Regions from separate parts of the Homo sapiens genome. Here regions 1, 2 and 4 are each linked to region 3. Evidence: fine-mapped expression QTL. A gene starts in region 3. Each other region holds a variant in brackets. All regions are shown on one strand. Distances are from middle to middle. Region 1 overlaps RNF185 (ring finger protein 185). Region 2 overlaps LIMK2 (LIM domain kinase 2). Region 3 holds the start of PIK3IP1 (phosphoinositide-3-kinase interacting protein 1). Region 4 overlaps LIMK2 (LIM domain kinase 2).

What was found. PIP is the estimated chance that this variant, and not a neighbour inherited with it, causes the effect. A credible set is the group of variants that fine-mapping cannot tell apart.
Region 1: its variant is the best candidate, but not a certain one, in a credible set for the expression of PIK3IP1 in whole blood (GTEx, PIP 0.87).
Region 2: its variant is the best candidate, but not a certain one, in a credible set for the expression of PIK3IP1 in whole blood (INTERVAL, PIP 0.50).
Region 4: its variant is the best candidate, but not a certain one, in a credible set for the expression of PIK3IP1 in testis (GTEx, PIP 0.88).

The regions. Positions count from the first base shown.
Region 1 is chr22:31,196,291-31,198,975 of GRCh38, forward strand. It overlaps RNF185 (ring finger protein 185), which reads left to right. Exons shown (of 7, transcript NM_152267.4): 5 at 646-700. Among named protein-coding and RNA genes, the nearest start is that of LIMK2, 15 kb to the right of the region's middle. The variant T/C (reference allele first, on the strand shown) is at 1,159.
Region 2 is chr22:31,243,758-31,246,442 of GRCh38, forward strand. All of the region lies in intron 2 of LIMK2 (LIM domain kinase 2), which reads left to right. Among named protein-coding and RNA genes, the nearest start is that of LIMK2, 33 kb to the left of the region's middle. The variant C/T (reference allele first, on the strand shown) is at 1,654.
Region 3 is chr22:31,291,262-31,293,946 of GRCh38, forward strand. PIK3IP1 (phosphoinositide-3-kinase interacting protein 1) reads right to left here and starts at 1,227. Exons shown (of 6, transcript NM_052880.5): 1 at 1,014-1,227; 2 at 1-35. The coding sequence starts at 1,083. LOC105372997 (a long non-coding RNA gene) reads right to left here. Exons shown (of 4, transcript XR_001755493.3): 3 at 2,469-2,560; 4 at 1,683-1,891. RefSeq lists an enhancer at 560-609.
Region 4 is chr22:31,259,926-31,262,610 of GRCh38, forward strand. LIMK2 (LIM domain kinase 2) reads left to right here. Exons shown (of 16, transcript NM_005569.4): 5 at 1-152; 6 at 2,209-2,314; 7 at 2,670-2,685. Among named protein-coding and RNA genes, the nearest start is that of PIK3IP1, 31 kb to the right of the region's middle. The variant A/G (reference allele first, on the strand shown) is at 1,351.

The sequences.
Region 1 (2,685 bases), 95 kb before region 3:
TTGCTCTCACCCAGTTCCCACCACAGTGTCATATGACTGGCTTTATCCCCCTTGAAACCATGAACACTTCAAGGGTTGGGTCTGTCATCAGTATTACAGCATCCTGCATAATGCTTATTGTATAACTAAGCCCTCAATTGAGTATTCATGGGTTGAGTGATTTGAGGGGGTGAGACTCAAAAATAATAGCATTGGGTATTTGCCCAAGAATAGTAGGAGATAGAGCTGAAGTTAATAGGGGAAGGTCAGAGAAACCATGAACCTCAGCCCTTACTGCTGACAACCCACCCTCTGTTCCAGTATGGATTTGGGATTTCTGTTATCTGTAACAGGCCCAGGGAAGGCATCTGGCCATGATTCCTAACCGATCTGAGTCAGGATCTCTGTAAGAGGAGTAGGCTGTAGTGCAATCTGGTGAATATCTCATAACGAGTTGATTTTCTCCCTGGTTCTCTATACACGTGGGAAGAACAGTTGCAGGTAGAATGAAGAGTTCGTATTTGGAGAATTAATCTGGCATAAGTTCATGTCCTGGACAAGAAAGAGGCTATGGCCCTGACCCTGTTGGTAAAGAGCTCCAGGTCCTCACAGGGAGCAACTCAAAGCAATTTGTAATAGACTTATTTTACACCATTTCTGTTTCAGAGAGAAGACCCCTCCTCGTCCTCAAGGACAGAGGCCAGAGCCGGAGAATAGAGGGGTGAGGAACATTCTAGGAGAAGCTTCTACAAATGAGCTGATGGCTTTAGAAGTTTCCTTCTTAGCCTTACAATTTTTCTCCTTGATTATAAAAGTAAAGGAAAACTTGTAAAATACAGAAAGGAAAAGAGGGGGAAAAAAATCACTTATAACCACACCAATCCAGAGGTAACCACTGGAAACATTTTGGTTCTATTTTCTTTTCCATTTTTCTATAATTATATATACACACAAATTTTACAAATCTGTGCGTGTATTTTACAGATGTGTGTATACTTTTTACAGTTTTTGTTTTTTGTTTTTTACAATATGTGGCTCCTGTTTTGTAACCCTCTCTTAAAATTTCATTTGTTCTACAGATACTTAGTACCTTCTTTGTGTGAGTGGGAGTCTTTTAGTATTATCTTGAGATTTTACATTGCCAGCAATATTTTACTAACTAGCTGTTTAGCATTTAGT[T/C]GTGTGGATTTAACATAATTCAATCCTTTGTTAGACATTAGCGGCTTTCTTTTTCCAAGTTAAAAAAAATCCTGATGAACTTACAGATAAATTTGTGAGCATGTTCATTATTATTTTATTAGGATAAGACAGGGTCTCACTCTGTAGCCCAGGCTGGAGTGCAGTGGTGTGATCACAGTTCACTGTAGCCTCGACCTCCTGGGCTCAGTCTACCTCAGCCTCCCATGTAGCTGGGACCACAGGTGCACGGCACCATGCCCAGCTAGTTTTTTGAGTTTTTTTTTGTCTTTCTTTTTTTTGTTTTGTTTTGTTTGGGTAGAAACAAGGTCTCACTATGTTGCCCAGGCTGGTCTCTAACTCCTGGGCTCAAGCAATCCTCCCACCTCAGCCTCCCAAAGTGTTAGGATTACAGGCGTGAACCACTGTACCTGGCTTAGGATAAATTCTTAGAAGTAAGATTACTGGCTAAAAAAAAATTGCACATTTGTCTCTAGTGGTCTAGTGGCTAGGAACAAAAACATTTACATTTTTTGCATATTTACATCAAATGTTACTCTTAAAAAAATTCTGTTAAAATGTTAAAGAAATTTTAAAAGCAAAATATTTACCCACCATTGCCAAGAGCCCAGAACAAGTATATTCTCATATCCTCATGTTCTCTTCATCTGTAGGCTGTGCATATGTATTTTTATGTAGCCATCACCATTCTGTTTGCTTTAAAATTTAATTTTGGCAGGTTTTCCATGATGCTCTGAAGTGTCCTCTTTATTATTTAGGCTGCCATTTATCCTATTGAGTTTTTTATTATTTTTTATTTTTCCATGCTATTGCTGGGAACCCATTGAGTTTTGGTTCATTGTAATTTGGGTTTTCCTCATCGAAGGACCTTTTAGTTGTTTCCCCATTTTGCTGTTTAAATAATGCTACAATAACCATCTTTGCACACTTTTTTTTTTTTTTTTTTTTTTGAGATGAAGTTTCACTCTTGTTGCCCAACTGGAGTGTAGTAGTGCGATCTCGGCTCACCACAGCCTCTGCCTCCCGGGTTTAAACAATTCTTCTGCCTCAGCCTCCAGAGTAGCTGGGATTATAGGCATGGGCCACCATGCCCAGCTAATTTTTGTATTTTTAGTAGAGACGAGGTTTCTCCATGTTGGTCAGGCTGGTCTCGAACTCCCAAGCTCAGATGATCCGCCCTCCTTGGCCTCCCAAAGTGCTGGGATTACAGGCGTGAGCCACCGCGCACTGCCACTTTCTTTTTTTTTTTTTTTTTTTTTTTTTTTGAGTTTGAATAATGGCATTTTATTAGGATTTCCAGGAGTAGGATTATTGAGTCAGGGATCTTGAAAGAAATTAAGGTTCTCGGCTGGGCGTGGTGGCTCACACCTGTAATCTCAGCACTTTGGGAGGCTGAGGCGGGTGGATCACCTGAGGTCAGGAATTCGAGACCAGCCTGACCAATATGGTGAAACCCTGTCTCTGCTTTCTTAAAAACATAAAAATTAGCCGGGTGTGGTGGCATGTGCC
Region 2 (2,685 bases), 48 kb before region 3:
CTAGAAGAGCAGTTTTCTATCCAGGACCAGTTTCCAAGGGTGGGAGGGTGAAATATATCCTCCAGTGTGACATTTCATCTCCCAGTGATGGGTGGCTTGGGCCCTTTGAAGTTGGCTCTGAGGAACCACACACTTGGGTCTGAGCAGCCAGCAGCTTATCACATCTGGTGATCAATCCTTCAAAGGTTCCTCCTGAAGTCTGAATTTTTGGAGGTCAAATGGATTCCACCTGGGAGGGGCTTCTGCTTCAACTCAGGACATGGGGAGAAGGCTGTTCCTCTTCCAGGGGGAGGCAGTTTTCATGGCATTGAGATGTCCTCTCACTTATTCCCCACCCACCCACCAAGTCCTTTGTAAGAGGAGTAGGGGGAGAGGAGAGCGCCTGCAGCCTCCTGCTCACATTCCTAGACACCGACTCACTGAGCCCGTCGCCGCTGGAACAGCAGAGCTGTGTGAAATGTCAAGAGGAGTTATGCTCATAGGCTCCCTGGCCTCAGTCTCTTTGTGGCTTGCATATTCTTCCATTAGTACTGTGTTCATCACATGGAAATCAGAGGGTACAATTAAAAGATAATTTGCTAGTCCCAGACTTAATTTGGGGCCCCCTTCTTGCCTGATTGAATTACAGGGGAACATAATAGATTTTTGGTGAGAAATAGTTGTCTGTGTGGCTGGGAGAAAGATTGCTCCCAGCTCTCCAGCTGGGCAGCCCTTTCAGTATCCCGTATGTTATTTCCCCACTTCCAGCCCACCTCACCTCCTCTGTGGCCCTTGTGTGTCCCCTCGGCTAGGATCCTGACCTCCTGCTCAAGAGTTTAAACTCAACTTGAGACCCAAGGAAAATAGAGAGCCCTCTGCAACCTCATAGGGGTGAAAAATGTTGATGCTGGGAGCTATTTAGAGACCTAACCAAGGCCCAGACAGAGAGAGTGACTTGCTAAAGGCCACATAGCTAGCCCACAGTAGTTGTAACAATAGTCTTAATGATATTAATGGCTAACATTTATCAACCTTTAATGTGTCCCAGACTTTGTGCCAAGGGCTTACATGCAGTGCATTGTCGCATTCAAACCCAGACAGTCTGGCTCTGGGCCCAGGCTGAGCTTTGGTATAGCATGGTAGAACGTTGTCTATAATGTCTAGTCTGGGTTCAAATCCTGGCTTCACTTCTCACATTTACAGCTGAGTGACCTCAGGCAAGTGATTTAACCTCCCTGTACCTCAGTTGCTTTATCTGTAAAGAGAAAAATCACAGCACTGTGGAATAGTGGGGGTTAAAATTCATTCATACAAGTAGTGCTGCAAGCAATGTTTAATACAGGGTGAGCACCTGTTCAGTGCTTCCTTCTTCTGGCTGCCTCTGGGGCTAGAGTGTGGTGTCTTCGTGGTATAGATAGATAGATATGGCTGAGCTCTGCACAAACACCAAGAGCTGTTCTTCACTATTAGAGGTAGTAAACAGAGTGGTTGAGCTCTGTGGTTCTAGAACAGAGGCCGGCAAGCTATGGCCCATTGCCTATTTTAATACGGCCTGTGATTGATTGATTTTTTTTTTCTTTTTGAGACAGAGTTTCACTCTTGTTGCCCAGGCTGGAATGCAATGGCACGAACTCAGCTCACCGCAACCTCTGCCTCCTGGGTTCAAGCGATTCT[C/T]CTGTCTCAGCCTCTCGAGTAGCTGGGATTACAGGCATGTGCCACCACGCCTGGCTAATTTTTGTATTTTTAGTAGAGACAGGGTTTCTCCATGTTGGTCAGGCTAGTCTCGAACTTCCAACCTCAGGTGATCTGCCCGCCTCAGCCTTCCAAAGTGCTGGGATTACAGGCGTGAGCCACCATGACTGGCCTGATTGACTGATTTTTTTAGTAGAGATAGGGTCTTGGTTTGTTACCCAGGCTGGTCTCAAACTTCTGGCTTCAAGCAGTCCTCCCTCCTTGGCCTCTCGAATGCTGGGATTATAGGCATGAGCCACTATGCCTGGCCTATATGACCTGTGATTTTTAATGGTTAGGGGAAAAAAAGCAAAAGAATGCTTTGTGACATGTGGAAATTACATGAAACTCAAATATCAGTGTCCCAGCCTGGGCAACAAAGTGAGACCCTGTCTCTACAAAAAATAAAAAAAAATAAGCCAGGGCCGGGCGCAGTGGCTCACACCTATAATCTCAGCACTTTGGGAGGCCGAGGCAAGTGGATCACCTGAGGTCAGGAGTTCAAGACCAGCCTGACCAATATGGTGAAACCCTGTCTGTACTAAAAACACAAAAATTAGCCGAGCATGGTGGCATGCGCCTGTAGTCCCAGCTACTTGGGAGGCTGAGACAAGAGAATTGCTTGAACCTGGGAGGCGGAGGTTGCAGTGAGCCAAGATCGCGACACTACACTGCAGCCTGGGCAACAGAGCGAGACTCCGACACACGCACGCACGCACACACACACACACACACACACACACACACACGCTGGGTATGGTGGCCAGCACGTGTGGTCCCAGGATGCACTGGAGGCTTAGGTAGGAGGATCACTTGAGCTTAGGTGGTTGAGACTACAATGAACCATGTTTATACCACTGCACTTTAGCCAGGGCAACAGTGTGAGACTGAATCTCAAAAGAAAAAAAAAAAAAAGAAAAAAATCTTTCCATAAGTAAATATCTGTTGGAACATAGCCATGTCCCTTAGTTTATG
Region 3 (2,685 bases):
CTCCCGGTACAGGTGGCCGTTGTCCCAGAAACAGCCTGTGAGGAAAAGAAGCCCCCGGACACAGAATAGCGGGCAGCGAACGGAAGACGCCCAGCGTGGCGGACAGGGGAGCCGGGACCACCCGGGCTGAACCTCAGCCTGGTTAGGGGACCCCGGGCCCTGCTGGGCCTCCCTCTCCTCTCGTGGCAACACCCCCACGCCCCACGCACCCCCCCCCCCCAACTCCACGCACACCTCAGGGTGTGAAGCCCCCAGCCTGTGCCTGTCCCCCAGTCAACGCTCAGAGACTGTTAGGTTTTATTTATTTTTGAAACCTGGAAAGCGCTGCAGAAGTGCAAAGCGTTGTTACTCTTGAACTTGTGACCACTTTGGAGGAGGAGATGGAGAGGAGGAGGCCTGGCTTAGGGTCCCTTTGAGGAGCTGGGAGTTTTGGGACGGGGGGCGCCCAGACGTGACATTTGTCCCTGTGTTGTAATGGCCACGTTACATAAACTCCGGTGTTTCCTCCTTCACGGATACGGCCACCTTCTGCCCGTTTAAAAGGCAAATACTCCCTCCCAGGAGAATTCTCCAGGAGCCTTGACTCCGTCAGGCAAAAGATTCAAGACAGCCTCAAACGGAGGAAACCGGCCTCATCGCTGACTGGATGAGACTCCAAGCTCCCACTCCCCTCTGCAGGAGAACCACAGAAGGAGGCTGGGGAAGGAGGACCACACCATGCAAAGGGCTTAGAAAGAACAGGACTTGGGGAGTAGGGGAGATGAACCCCCAAGCTCCATCCACTCATGAGCAAGGAAAGGCAGAGAGAAAGTGGCTTCTTGCCTTTGTTCTTAATGGCAAAGATGGAGCTGCAAGCCCCTGACAAGGAAAGGAGGGGTGGAAAAGCTTTCACGGGACAACAGAAACCGGCTAAACGCTTCGTTTCCTGTCATCCTGGCCCTGTTTGGGAAATAGGGGGCTTTACCCCTTCTGTTTCATGAAGTTGCTGCGGAAAGGAAAGATTGTAATCTCACCTCCAGATCCATAGGCTTCTGCTAGGAGCATGTTGCTGACGAGGAATGCTTGTACCCAGGCCAACAGCATCCTTGCCTCCTTCGTCTTGCAGGTGATTGAACGACCAGTGTTTAACCGAGGCCCCCTTGGCGGCGGCTCTGCCTCCCAGTCCCAGCCTTGCAGTCAGACCTGCCCTTGTTATGCTGTTCTGGTAAACAGCCTCTCTTTAGAACTGGGAGCTTCCCAGCTAGCTTGCTGCAGCGCGAGCTGTTTTTCAGCTGAAAGGCGCCCCCTGGGTCCTAAGCCTCCTAGGTCATGCAAAATCTAACTGAGCCAAGAAAGGAACTCAGCCAAGAGATATGCAGGTTGTGCTTAGCAGCCGATCAGTTTGAGACCTGCGAGGCCGCATCCCCAGGGTTTTTCATCTCTTCTGTTTCCATTTGTGTGAGTACAGAAAAAATAATTCTATCAAGGGGCATCATGGGATGTGGGAAATTATAAGCACTAAAACACAGAACAACTTAGGGAGCTATGCACCCAGGAGGAATTCATGACCACATAGGGGGGAAAAAATAAGAGTTTCTGGTGGGGAGTGGAGTAATAGTTTTTTTTTTTTTCTTTTCTTTTCTTTTTGAGACAGAGTTTCACACTGTCGCCCGGGCTGGAGTGCAATGGCACAATCTCGGCTCACTGCAACCACCTGCCGGGTTCTCGCAATTCTGCCTCAGTCTCCGGAGTAGCTGGATTTTTTTTTTCCCTCACTCTATAGGAAATCCATTTGCTGTAATTTATATCCATCATTAAATCTCACCATATCCATTTGACTTAGGCCTTTTGGAGTTAGGCAGAAGGGCCCTTCTTCCTGTTTGGCTGACAGCTCCCAGGCAGCCTCAGTAAACTGAGAGAGAGAGCAGAGTGATTCGTCAAGACTACCTTGTGACAGGGGCACACCACCACAACCCAGCTAATTTTTTGTATTTTTAATAGAGACGGGGGTTTCACTGTGTTGGCCAGACTGGTCTTGAACTCCTGACCTCGTAATCCACCTGCCTCGGCCTCCCAAAGTGTTGGAATTACAGGTGTGAGCCACCGCGTTCGGCCGAGTAACACTTTATACCCATCCTTGAAAAAGAAAAAGGGCCTTTATGAACACTGACACTTAAAAAAAAAAAAAAAAAAAAAAAAAAAAAAAAACAGTGTAACTTGGCCAGGGTCAAATCTGTCACATTGCTTTTTCTTACATTTGAGGTTTTTTGGGGTGTTGTATATAGTAGGACTATAGAAGGAGTATCTTTAGTTGAAAACACATGTTATGCAAACATGGAAAAATTTGCTCAGCTACATTGTAATAGTCTACCCTTTCTGCCAGCCCTAAATTGTATAGAGGAATTTAAGTAAAATGTTTGCTTTTTTTTTTTTCCCTCACCCTATAGGAAATCCATTTGCTGTAATTTATATCCATCATTAAATCTCACCATATCCATTTGACTGAGGCCTTTTGGAGTAGGCAGAAGGGCCCTTCTTCCTGTTTGGCTGACAGCTCAAGTTCCCAGGCAGCCTCAGTAAACTGAGAGATAGAGCAGAGTGATTCGTCAAGACTACCTTGTGACTCAGTCAGATCCCAAAATAGAAATGGGGAAACTCTGTTTCAATCTTGCAGGCTGTAATTTAAGGAGGAAAACAACTAATTTT
Region 4 (2,685 bases), 31 kb before region 3:
TTTGAGAGACTCTCCACAGAGTCTGTTCAGGAGCAGCTGCCCTACTCTGTCACGCTCATCTCCATGCCGGCCACCACTGAAGGCAGGCGGGGCTTCTCCGTGTCCGTGGAGAGTGCCTGCTCCAACTACGCCACCACTGTGCAAGTGAAAGAGTAAGTATTTTGAGAACCCTTCAGCAGGGGTTCTTGAGCAGAGTCTGTAAATGGGCCTCAGAGGGCTTAGACCTCCAAAGTCTCATGCAGAACTCCCTTTATTCTCATCTCATATCTTTCTCCTGGACCCCACTATGCTGTAACCGTACCTGGGCCTTGGCACTTACTGTTCTCTCTGCCCAGGCTACTTCCTACCCGATACTTAAGGCAAGAATCACTCACCTTTCAGGTGTCAGGTTTCAGGTCATGTTTGCTCTTTGAAATCATCTGGCTTGATTATGTGTATTAGTTGTTTATCTTCTATCCCCTCCACTAGAATGTAAATTCCAGAAGAAACTTGCTGTCTTATTCAGTGCTGCATGCCCAGGGCTTGGAAGAGTACCTGGCATATAGTAGGAGTTGATTGATTATTATTTTGTCAGTCGAGAGAATGAATGGAGAAAATGTGGTCCATGGCCCAAAAGAAGTTAAGACCCTATCCTAGATTCAGGCCAGAGACCAGATGGAGAAAGAGTCTGTGTCTATCTAATACCAGTAATGTCGTACCTCTGGCCGCTTACCATGTAAATATTGATTGTGTATCTACCATGTGTTGGACACTAGGCTAGTGCTTGCACAGCAGGTGAAAGATACTAGAGTTTGGGAAGTCAGGAGGAGCTAAGGTCTGTTCTACAACCTTATTAGATGAAGAGGAGAGGGAATTGTGTTCAGGGCAGAGGGAGAAGCATTTCTCCAAAAGTAGGAGTCTTAATCATGTCTGATGTAGGTTGAGTGTGGCCAGAAAAGGGGCTGTTAAGTATAGAGGGCCTGGATTATGAAAATCCAGCAGATCCATTGAGAGTTTAAGCAGCAAGGTGTTGTGACCAAGTTAACATTTTAGAAGGATCACTGGTATGGAGGTTGGATTGGAGAGGGGAAAGCCTAAAGGTATAGAGACTAGTTAGGAAGCTATTGTAGGCTGGGCATGGTGGTTCATGCCTGTAATCTCAGCACTTTGGGAGGCTGAGGTGGGAGGATTGCTTGAGGCCAGGAGTTGAAGACCAACCTGGCCAACATAGCAAGACCCCGTCTCTGTTTTTCTTAATTAAAAGAAAAGTCCAGACGTAGACATAGTGGCTCACGCCTGTAATGCCAGCACTTTGGGAGGCCAAGGTGGGCAGATTGCTTGAGGTCAAGAGTTTGGGATTAGGCCAGGCGC[A/G]GTGGCTCACGCCTGTAATCCCAGCACTTTGGGAGGCCGAGGTGGGCGGATCACAAGGTCAGGAGATCAAGACCATCCTGGCTAACACAATGAAACCCCGTCTCTACTAAAAGTACAAAAATTAGCCGGGCATGGTGGCGGACGCCTGTAGTCCCAGCTACTCGGGAGGCTGAGGCAGGAGAATGGCATGAACCTAGGAGGCGGAGCTTGCTGTGAGCAGAGATCACGCCACTGCACTCCAGCCTGAGCGACAGAGCGAGACTCCATCTCAAAAAAAAAAAAGAGTTTGGGATTAGCCTGGCCAACATGGCAAAACCCCATCTCTACAAAAAGTACAAAAAAATTAGCTGGGTATGGTGGTGCGCGCCTGTAATCCCAGTTACTCAGGAGGCTGAGGCATGAGAATTGCTTGAGCCTGGGAGGTGGAGGTTGCAGTGAGCCCAGATCATGCCACTGCACTCCAGCCTGGATGACAGAGTAAGATGCCATCTCAAATAAAAATTAAAAACAAAGTTTAAAAAAAAAATAGAAGCTATTACCGTGATCCAGGTAAGAGATGTGAATAACTACAATGATGGAAAGAAGGCAGAGTTCTTAGAGATGGGAGTAGGAGAGATGAGGGAACTCCAGATTGGGAAGATGATGTTCAAGTTTCTGGCTTAGGCCACAGGGTGAGTGGCAATTCCCTTCACTGAGATGGGGCATCCTGGAAAAGGTGTTGCCTTTCTGTGTGGGTATCCTGGGCCCCTTAGGGGCCACTGGTGGCCTGGGACCTGGTAAACCTTCCCTGCACAAGCAGAATTGGTCAAGCAGGTTTTTAGGACATCTTTACCCTGCCTCAACTCTTGTCTGGCCCAGGGTCAACCGGATGCACATCAGTCCCAACAATCGAAACGCCATCCACCCTGGGGACCGCATCCTGGAGATCAATGGGACCCCCGTCCGCACACTTCGAGTGGAGGAGGTAGAGTGTGTGTCTAATCTGTCTTGTGAGGGTGGGACATGGAACAGATCCTCTGAGAAATCAGGCTGTAGCCTTTACCTTTTCCTACCCCCAGCCCATCTCTTTGTCTTAGCATTGAGCCTGTGACCACTGGTGACCTATTTCAGCGTAACAGGTTCCCAGGGTAGCAGGGATGGTTGATGGACGGGAGAGCTGACAGGATGCCAGGCAGAGGGCACTGTGAGGCCACTGGCAGCTAAAGGCCACCATTAGACAAGTTGAGCACTGGCCACACTGTGCCTGAGTCATCTGGGTTGGCCATGGGTGGCCTGGGATGGGGCAGCCTGTGGGAGCTTTATACTGCTCTTGGCCACAGGTGGAGGATGCAATTA